3 linked regions of the Homo sapiens genome follow. The protein of the gene in region 1 interacts with the protein of each later gene in a pairwise test. Each region holds a gene or a part of one and is shown in the gene's direction. Other genes may lie near its edges. The genes, in order: FRZB, ELF5 and EHF.

Region 1 (3,655 bases):
CTTCTAAGCATTTGTAAAAGCGTAGAAACATTTTCCTTTGAATAAGAATGGAAGAAGTAAAACACTCTCCTTGGCTTAGCTATTTTGAAGTGATTCCCTTTCACCAAGCAAAGTTTTATTTTTCACTCTTATTTCTACCTTTGAACAATAAACATTTCAAATATGGGCCAATATAATTTCTTCCTTTATGAAGACATTATTTTTGTATGTAGTTTATCACATGATTATTCAGAAATAGAAAAACCACTGGCACGTTACTGTAATACTTGGGTACATTTATCATGAATAAATGTTTGAATATAATGAAAGTATTAGTAATTAATAGTTTATGCCCAAGTTGAGCCAAATGTTTTAGAATTAGTGTTTGTTACTTGCTTATCTGTTTGTTTGCTGACTGCTGTCTTTTCTTGGATATTGCTTTTTAAATACTTGCTGATGATTACTAAACCTGGGAAAGTAATTCATTAATTGTAATTGTGGGTGTTATAGTCCTAAAATAGTATTAACCCCTTGTTTAATTTATTCCTGATAGGACCTATAAACAAAAAGGACAAAGGAAGAATACTATTTTCTCCTAGAATAAATAGAGGCATTAAATTAGTTTAGCATAAAGTGTTACTACAAATGTAAAACTCTTATATAAAGTACTAAATTGGAGTGTCAATAAGGATATATTGCTAGGTACAGCATCTCTCAGCACGGTGTTCCGCTGGTGCACTGTTATTCATTAGAGGCTGCTTTCTTAATTAGAACACAGAAAACCTTTATCATTACTATTTTCTGGGATTATGGCATCCTAAAAAGAATCAATAGCAATTTCTAATTATTGTCACATCTATTAATTGCACTGGCTTGAATAGTCCCTGAATAGTAGGTTTCTTTTCTGTTGAAGAATTATTTAGCCTGCAGTTAAAGGACATGAGAATGATTTCTGAGTGTTCGTTTAGGAACTAAGGATTTAAATATATACCAGTTCAGTGTGATATGTCCATTTATTGAAGATGCGTTTGGTTTTTTTTTTGTCATCAAGTCATAAGTGTTGGATGAGTGCCTAATATTTGCATAGGCTTTATCATGATAGGATGCTTATCATTTACAAATTTTGTGAAATTCAAATAAATTATTAAATTCTAAAATTTTATGCACAGTTGAGTATTCAGAAGAGTATTTCCTTATAACCACATGAAAAAATAAGTCTCATCCATACTCAACCCATGAATGATAAGAATGCCGACCTCATGACGTTAATAAAAATCTACTTCCTTCAGACAATTGGATTCTTACCCAAATCAAACTTGTGACTGAGTTAGATTTTTATCTTTAGGAATTCTTGAAATAGATATGTTATAGTTCTTTTTTCTGTCACCTCCTTTCAGATTTTCCTATGGATTCTAGTAACGGAAACTGTAGAGGGGCAAGCAGTGGTGAGTATATCATTATCTTCCTGGTTTTCATTTGTGGTCAGATTAGTCATTGATGTAATTTAGATACTTAAGTCATTCATGGGGAAGCTTGTGCCCTACATTTTACAAGTAAACTTTTTAAAATTCCCTCATTTATATTAATTTTATTTTTAAAATTAGCACGTAGTAAAATTGGACTTTTATTTGGACATATAGTTTGGTACAGATGAATTTTAATATTATGTAGAGATTTATGTAACCACCACCACATCAGGATACAGAACAATTCCATCACCTCCCAAAACTCCTTCAAGCTGTATCCCTTTATAATTACAAGTTTTCCCTATCTTCATCCACTGGCAATCACTCATCTTTTCTTTATCACTATAGTTTTCTCTATTTGAGGTTCGATTGTCCATATAGACAGACTGACAGTACGCCTTTGAGACTTAACCAATTGCTGCATATATCAATGGTGCATTCCTTTTTATTACAGAATATTTTATTACTTGGATGTATGACCATTTGTTCACCCATTCACTCCTTCAAGGAAGTTTGGGTTGTCTCCAGTTTGGAGCAATCGCGAATAGAGCTACTATAAACATTCCAGTACAGGTTTTTGTGGGAATGTAAGTTTTTATTTCTCTAGGCTAAATAAGTAGGAATAGGATCACTGGGTTATATGGTAAGTATATGTTTAGCTTTGTAAAAAAGTGCCAAACTGTTTCCAAGATGGCTGTTCAATTTTGTGCTAGTAATGTATAAGAGTTCCAGTTGTTCTATATCTTTGCGAGCCCTTGGTATTATCAATATATTTTATTGTTAGCCATTTTAATAGGTATGTGATAATAGCTCATCATGGTTTTAAATTGCATTTCCCTAATGGCTAATGATGCTGAATACATTTTCATGTGTTTATTTGCTATCCACATATATGCTTTTTGGTAAAATGTTCAATAATTTTGCCCATTTTAAGTTGGGTTGTTTTCTTAATGAGTTCTGAGGGTTCTTTACATATTCTGGATACAAAAAACATCTTTTGGTTTTATTCATTTTCTCTATTGTTTCACTGTTTTCAATTTTATTGATTATTTCCTTCTGCTTGCTTGCTTTAGAGGTTTATTTTGCTTTTTCTTTTGTTTCTTAGAGTAGAAGCTTATATTGTGTTTTGAGACTTTTTTTTTTTTTTTGAGATGGAGTCTTGCTCTGTTGCCCAGGCTGGAGTGCCGTGATGCAATCTCAGCTCACCACAACCTCCACTTCCTGGGTTCAAGCAATTCTGCCTCAGCCTCCCAACTAGCTAGGATTACAGGTGTGCACCACCACACCCAGCTAATTTTTGTATTATTAGTAGAGACAAGATTTCACCATGTTGGCCAGCTGGTCTCTAACACTTGATCTCAGGTGATCCACCCACCTTGGCCTTACAGAGTGCTGGGATTACACACGTGAGCCACCATGTCCGGCCAAGACCTTTCTTCTAATATAATGTAATGCTATAAATACCCATCTAAGAATGACTTTAGTTGCATCTCACAAATTTTGATAGTTTCATTTTTCTTCAGTTCAAAATATTTTATATTTTTCCTTGATATTTCCTTTGACTTGTGCATCATTTGGGATTATGCTGTTTAATTTGCTGCTTTTTGAGGATTTTCCTATTATCTTTGCTATTTTTCAAATTCTACTGTTGAAGAATATACTTTGTGTGATTTCAGTTCTTTTAGATTTATTAAGGTTTATTCTCTGATCCAGGATATAATCTGTCTTGGTGAATGTTCCATGTACACTTAGAAAAAAGAGTATTTTGCTGTTGGGTGGAATGTCCTTTAAATGTCAATTCAATTTAGTTGATTAATACTGTTATTTAGTTCTTTTATATTCTTGCTGATTTTCTGTCTACTAGATCTATTGATTACCGAGAGAAGGGTGATTAGGTCTCCAAATATTGTGGATTTTTCTATTTCTTTTTTCAGTCTGTCAGTTTTGCTTCATGTATTTTGAAGCTCTGTTTGGTACATACTTGTTTAATATTTTTTATGTCTTATTGGTGAATTGATGTTTTCATTATGTAGTGTCCTTTTATCCTTGGTAATTTTCTCTGCTCTAAATTATATTTTTTCTGATATTGCTATAGGTAATTCAGCTGTCATTTGATTAGTGTTTGCAGGGCAAAACTTTTTCTATCCTACTTTTAACATACTTAAGTCATTGTGTTTTAAATACATTTCTTGTAGACATCATATAGTTGG
Region 2 (3,655 bases), on another chromosome or scaffold:
GACCTTACAGGGGTCCCGTCAGTCCCCGGAACGGCAATCTCCTCACGTGTAAAGTGGAGAGAGTGACTGTCAGTCACCTGGTCAGTCAGTCACACTCACTGAGGTAGGCCTGTGGTGGGCTAGGCCAGGCTCCAAGCACTCCTGGTTCAGGGCGAGCAAAAGCTCTAGGTCTGGAGGGGAGGGATGAGGAGGACGCCTGATGGGCACTCAGTGAGGAGGAAGAGACCTCTGCGAGGGGGAGTGAGGATGAGCAGAGATTCCTCAGGAGAAGGCAGATGGGGACCACGTTCCATCCAAAGAGAAGTCGCTGTGGGAAGACTCTGGGCCGTGGAGCCTCCTGAAAGAGAAGAGCAGGAGAGGGGCTGGTGAGGAGGGGCTGACAGCGGCGTCCCTCGTCTGGGCAGCCTCCGCTCTGCCACTCTCCTCCCGTCCTGAGGATGGGACCCCCGGAAAAGAGGCCTGCCATGGCACCCAGAGCAGCCATTTTCCTCCCAGTTCTGGGGCTTTGGAAGGAGCTTGCGGATGAGGAGAGGGAGCCTCCGCAGGGCTCTGGCTCCCCTCCAGGGGCCGAGGCCGCACACAAAGCCGCTCTGTGGGTGAGCTTCAAAGCAGAGCGCCGAGGAGCAGGGAGCCAGCGCCAGCAACACCTCCCCGGTGTGGGGCCGACTCCCCGCCTGGGCGTTTCTCCGAATCCTTGAGGCCCCCTTGGCTTCCGCAAACAATATGGCCCTCTTCAAGTGCCAAAGAAAATAACAAGGGGGTGGAAGCAGAGAGGGGAGGGGAGGGAAACGGGAACAGAGCCTTGGCGAAACCTTTCCATGAAATCAACTGTGCCCTCCGACGGCCGCACACCGATGGCCATCTAGGGCAGGGCCCGCAGCTGAAAAATGTCAAGGCTCATAAACATCTCTCACAGGACGCCAGTAAAGTCCAAAAGGCCCCTCAGGTTTACTAAAGCCAGAAATCAGTAGATGAAAGCTCAGGCCGAACTCAGGAATGGCCCCTTGTTCTGCCAGGAACCCCTGCCTGCCCTGAAGAGCCCCCACGGGCCTGGTAAGCCAGCTCCAGCCAGTGGCCAGTGAGCAAGACCTGAGTCATCGGTCTCACCGGCTCCCTGGCTCTTCCTATCTGCCAGGTAGAGGCTACGACATCAGCCTCAAGCACCCTGGCACAATATTGACGCTTTGATCTTAATGCATATAAAATTCTGAAAATTTTTAAATAAAATAAATCAACTGCCCCTCCACCCACCCTTCGGTGGTAAAAGAGATCTCTGGAAGACCTTTGAGTTTTAAGGGGAGCCTCTATTTCCTTTTTTGTGGAATAGCCCAATTACACCTACTGGATAGGATTGTTGAGGGGACCTGAGAAACTTGAGACGACAAGAACGCGTAGCGCCTCGGCTGGCTGAGGGTGCTGAGTGAGTAGTAGCACCTGACAGGCAGAGGACCCACCTCCTGCCTGGAATCATCAGCAACTGACAATGGTGCGAGTTCTACTCACCTTTAAACGCTGCAAATCGCACCACTGCTATTTGCTGTGGGGTATAACATGTGAGGGACCCTTTCTGTCATCGTCACCTTAGCCACTCTCTGCTCTCTGCCTTTCTTTTCAGGCCCTCGTGTTGTGTTCTCTCCAGCTTTCCCCGTGCCTCAGCCACTCTTCACGTTCCATCTCTGCTCTGTGCTGACCCGGTATGGTGGTGTGGGGAGAGCAATGGCTTTCAAGTTCAGGCTAGGGTTCAAATCCAGCTCTGCCACACGCTGGCGTGGGTTCTTGGGAAAGTCCTTCATGACTTTCAAGTTCCTCTTCTGTGATCTCCTGGGGGACGGGGGACCAAACCTGTCCACCATGAATCCTTAACATACAACGTGTGGCTGCACACATAGTAGATATTCAATAATAATGTTTGTAATAGCATTTAAATCCTCCAGGCTCTGTTCCAGGTACTTTTATGTATATTAAGTCATTTAATCTGCAGAACAGCACTATGATACAGGTGCTGTAATTATTCCAATTTTACCAGTAAGGAAACTAAAGCTTTTATTTATTGAATGAAATGAATAAATGAATGAATGTTTTCCATGGCAGATACAATAATTGTTTATGTCAAAGAGCCTGACCAAGTACCTAATACAGCACCTCTTCCATACCTTATGTCCACCCCACTTTCCATTTCTCCTAAGAACAGAAGGACAGAACTGTTGAACACCAAATCTCTACCCCTGGGCCAGGCAAAGCCACATGCCAGCCTCCCAGACAGATGGCACTCACAACTGTCTAGGCATGTACACGACTCCTCTAAAGGAGTGGGGGCTCTGATCTCAGGATAGAAATTACTCTGAACACCACCAAAAACACAAGAACAACAATACAACCAACTCTCCCATGACCACCTTCCTCTGGAGGTGCCTACTATGGTGACGCAAGGACTGTCAGACTCTGGGCAATGTCTAATAACCCAAGGTTCTTGGCACAAGATTGCCAGTAACTGTGCAGAAACAAATAGCCAGCATTGGGCAGCTGCCCTTTAAAGCATAGGGAATCAAAACCAGCTTCAAATGGTTTCTGACACACGGTAGGCATTTAGTAACTATTGAATTGGTTGGTAAGTTTCTGTGTGCCATTCTACATACATTAACCCCAAACTCCATAATAGTCCTGGGCATTGAGCATATTATCCCCATTTTACAGATGAGGAAACTGAGACTTCAATGTCCACAGACCTTGCCAAGCGGAAAGTGGTAGAATCAGAATTTCAACCCAGCTTGTCAAACAGCTGAGTTTGTGCTTTTGATATCATGTTATCTGGAATCAAATAACTGAAGGGCTGTTTTCTTTCTTTCTCCACTAAATGCCTTTTTTTTTGAGCATCAGCACCAAGACTGGTTCTTTCTTGCCCCTGTCATTCCCTCTATGATGCCAAAGTTCATCTGTAGGATCCAGTCCCTCTGGTTTTCTCTGCAGAATAGAAGGTGACCTGGGCTCTGCAGAACACCCAGGGCTGGAGGCCCTTTCAACTTATTGGCTGAGGAATGAGGATGTTACTTAACTGATGCATCCTTCAGGGGCCCTCTCGAAGGCTGTCTTGGGACTGTTGTCCCTCACTTCTTTCTCCTTTGGTGCAGCCTGTGACTCATACTGGACATCAGTCCACCCTGAATACTGGACTAAGCGCCATGTGTGGGAGTGGCTCCAGTTCTGCTGCGACCAGTACAAGTTGGACACCAATTGCATCTCCTTCTGCAACTTCAACATCAGTGGCCTGCAGCTGTGCAGCATGACACAGGAGGAGTTCGTCGAGGCAGCTGGCCTCTGCGGCGAGTACCTGTACTTCATCCTCCAGAACATCCGCACACAAGGTCAGTGTTCAGAGGGCCAGACCTCCAGGGGAGGGACCAGGATTAGGACCAAACAACTTTGAGAAGTCCTTTCCCATCGTGTGAATTGCACAGCAAAATTTTACTAACTGGAGTTCTCGTTAATCCAAACCTTCAATAACTGGAAGCTAGTATGCCAGAATTGGGGATTTTAGGGAAAAGGGAGCGAGTTACAAAAATGCAAATTGAGTGCATTTAAAAAAAGAGAAAGAAAAACGGACACCACGTTCAGGGACTGCCCAGGCACCAGGCTGATAATAATACAGTATATTCAT
Region 3 (3,655 bases), on another chromosome or scaffold:
TTTTCTTGCACTACATTTTCTTCTACTGGTCCACCCTTGAATTTGTTGGAATATCCATGTGTCACGTTCTGTTGGATTTCCCCTGCTTCAGCTTGGTGGGATGCAATAGTCTTTGCCCCTTGCCCCTTTCACTCATCTTTCCTGAAAGAGAGTTCCTTCCCAACATCTATTTCCAAGGGAACTGTAAGCTCTCTCAGCCCTGTTACATGCCCTCAGATGCTGGTTTGTCTTTTCCATTGCCGCAGAACTTCGGGCAGACTATGGAATGTTTTTTTAAGTGAGCATGAGTCACATATACAGATGGTTAGCACATATTAGGTTCAGCAATATTTATCCAGTTTAATGAACTGCACTTCTTCATTGGCATCTGAATGTACCATCTTGTGAATGTACCATCTTTTAAACGTACCTCCCAACTCCTCAGATGCCTACCTTATTTCTTCTTCAAAAATACATTCCATTAAATAAATATATGGTGAGCATCTACTATGACAAAGTCTCTGAGGTCATTTTTTAGGTGATACAAAGACAAGTAAAACAGTCTGTGACCTCAAGCATACAATTTACAAAGGAGAATAAGACGGCACTTAGAGACCTGTACAGAAAAGCAGAACATGACAAAGCCATTAGAAATACCAAGCATGTCTCCTGGAGGGTAAGAGGACAGTGAGCCCTTGAAGCAAGTTGGGGGGATTGGGAATGATTTTACAGGATGGTCAGAGTTCGAAAGATGGGTAGGAATTCAACAGGAGTGAGAGGTAGAACACAAGCTTAGCTGAAAGAACAGCATAGAGAAAAGACAAGTTATTGGTTACTTGAAGAAGAGTTAGTGAAGAGCCTCAATGCCTAGCTAGGCAGCTTTATACCTAATTTCAGTGGGTGATGAGGACTACTAAAGGTAACTGAGTAGGGAAGTGACATCATGATAGCTATAATGACTAGGCTGGGGCAGTGGGATATCAGTCCAGTTAGTAGATCAATAATCTGGACCACTTTGAGGAAAAGCAAAGGCATCGTAGAGAAAAGAACCTTAATTTCAGGCCTTATTTTTAGTTGAAAATGGTCTGAGTTTGGTGGTGTGTGTGTGTGTGTGTGTGTGTGTGTGTGTGTGTGTGTATGTATAAGAGAGAAAAAATGAGAGAGAGTGAGTGAGAGAGAAGAGGAAGAGAACGATTTGGGTATGGACAATAAGCTAATAAATTGCTGAAATGATAGCAATGCTCTAGCTTTCATGATATTTTACTTTGGGGGAGGTGGGGGATGAGCTCTGAGCACTTCAGCTCTCTTGTCCTCATCCAGTGTCCAGGGGTAGGTAGCAGGCTAGGGAGGACATGAAAATGCACTTCTGCTCCATCACCCATGCTGGCACATACACGGACTGTGGTTGTGTCTCTGAGATATCTGGCAGCCAACAGTACATCCCTGTGTCAGATACTATGGCCAGGAACAGCCAGGGGTCACTCATGAGGCTGCTTCCTGTTTTGCAGTTTCCAGTGGGTTTTTTGGAGGCCAGTGGCATGAAATTCATCCTCAGTACTGGACCAAGTACCAGGTGTGGGAGTGGCTCCAGCACCTCCTGGACACCAACCAGCTGGATGCCAATTGTATCCCTTTCCAAGAGTTCGACATCAACGGCGAGCACCTCTGCAGCATGAGTTTGCAGGAGTTCACCCGGGCGGCAGGGACGGCGGGGCAGCTCCTCTACAGCAACTTGCAGCATCTGAAGTGGAACGGTGACTCTCTCTTTCTGTGTCTCTCCCTACCCTGCTAGGAGCCAGCTGGAAGAATAGAGATTCTGCAGATGACAGGATTCTTTGTCAGGGACAAGAAAGAGTGGTCTCACCTCCAAATTACCATGTCCCAAGACAGAGAAATGGAAGGAAGATGAAAGGACAGGATTGAAGCATAGGGTACCTGGTGTGCCTAATCCCTTATAAATGCCAGTGTAATTTAATTCTTTCCTTATGGTGATAATTTTCAAGAAGACAAAAGCTGGCTAGGAATTCGTAGAATACTTACTATCCTTGGAAAATGTTTTCTTTCCTTTGCAAACAGTCCAGTCACTTGCTTGTTAAAAAGATCATCATGGTTACAAAAAAAAAAACAAAAAACAAAAAACAAAACAAAACAAAACCCCCCCCACACACACACACAAAGAACCTTCTAGACCTAGGTTCTTAAGATAGGGTCCTAAGGGTGGTAAGAAGATATATGAAATTAGAACTATGTTTGTGTTTTGGGAGGGGAAAAAACTCACAATACTTCAGCAGATTCTTAAAAGGTCTGTAACTTAAAAAAAGGGTTAGAACATATGGTCTAGACACGTGTATGGGGAATGTTTCTGTGGTGGTTTCTGGAATTTCTGTTGCCCTAATGCCCCAGATGTCTCTCTGAGGCTTCCCCTAGCACAGGGATGGGCCACCATTCCAGATGTTGTCTTTGAGTGGTAGATTATTCATACACGAACATATCCTATACTGACATGTAAGACCTAGTAGGGTGGACAACTGACCTTGCAGAATGGTTTTGACACTGGCATAAGGTTCCCCTGATAGTGGCTGTAAAAATCTAGCTCTTCTGAGAACTATGGGCATCCTGAAAAGTAGCAATATTTAAGAACAGGGAGTTGGCCTGTCTGCACTGGAAAAGGCATTTATGTCTTGGTAGAACCCATGTTTGGGCAAGTAACCGGGACTTGGGCGGCATGAGCTCCAGGGCTGTGAACCAGAGTCATACCCTGGCAACAGCCATCAACACTGAAGAGGACCTGGGGCCTTGCAGCAGAGCTTGTGGCTGCGGTGGCCATTTTAGATGATGTCATTCAGCTCCCTGGCCATGCCCTGCTTCCCACCCACCTCACATTGGTGGCTGCTCTTTTTTCTTTGACTAGAATCAAACCAAACAAGGCTCTATAAATAACCCTCAGGGATCTTCAAAAAGATCAGACTTACACTTGAAGAATTAAAAATATTTACCTCCACCCCCCAATTAAATCCACTCCTTTAAAGCTTTGCCCTGATTGAGGTCTGAGGCAGGGAGGCCTGGGAGGTGCTGTGGCCATCTTAGACCTTCTGTCTCTGACTTCCCATGACTTGTTTGGTCTCATCGCATGCTGCTGTAGCCTCTGAGTTCCTAATGTCCAGGCAGATTGCTCACTCTTTTGTTGTTTGCCTTTGTGTAGACCTTCTATCAACTAACATTTATTGAGTATTTACTTATACTAGGCACTGTAAGTGAATTAATTCATTTAATAACTTTATGACAAAGTAAATATTGTGCCCATTTTACAGGTGGGAAGACTGAATGTCAGAGAGGTTAAAGGCATGGCTTCTGTTCTTGAGATGTTTAGAATCTGTCTGGGGAAGAAAACAGACTAGATTCATATGCATTTACAAATATATATATATATATATAAGCATACATATATATGCTTTTATATATGATAATGGGAGAGGAGTTGCAAGCAAACAAGGTCATGTGATGTGTACTGCTTGTACATGTGCTGAGGCATAAATAAGGAAAGAGTCACCACATTTTATCCAGACATATCTCACAGATTGGATGTAATCATGATGGCATTGATTAGATTTTAAATCAAAGAAGAATCAAGCTAGTTAAAAAGGTTTTTCCCTACATTTTCATTTTCATATCATAT

What was found.
Region 2: the proteins of FRZB (region 1) and ELF5 interact in a two-hybrid assay, tested with the Homo sapiens proteins (one large-scale study listed by BioGRID and IntAct).
Region 3: the proteins of FRZB (region 1) and EHF interact in a two-hybrid assay, tested with the Homo sapiens proteins (one large-scale study listed by BioGRID and IntAct).

The regions. Positions count from the first base shown.
Region 1 is NC_000002.12:182,856,555-182,860,209, reverse strand, and holds part of FRZB (secreted frizzled-related protein 3 precursor), read left to right. Parts: intron 1-1,376; coding exon 1,377-1,424; intron 1,425-2,806; exon of another isoform or gene 2,807-3,655. UniProt on the Homo sapiens protein: Soluble frizzled-related proteins (sFRPS) function as modulators of Wnt signaling through direct interaction with Wnts. They have a role in regulating cell growth and differentiation in specific cell types.
Region 2 is NC_000011.10:34,493,186-34,496,840, reverse strand, and holds part of ELF5 (ETS-related transcription factor Elf-5), read left to right. Parts: intron 1-3,128; coding exon 3,129-3,362; intron 3,363-3,655. UniProt on the Homo sapiens protein: Transcriptionally activator that may play a role in regulating the later stages of keratinocytes terminal differentiation. Isoform 2 binds to DNA sequences containing the consensus nucleotide core sequence GGA[AT].
Region 3 is NC_000011.10:34,644,952-34,648,606, forward strand, and holds part of EHF (ETS homologous factor), read left to right. Parts: intron 1-1,487; coding exon 1,488-1,733; intron 1,734-3,655. UniProt on the Homo sapiens protein: Transcriptional activator that may play a role in regulating epithelial cell differentiation and proliferation.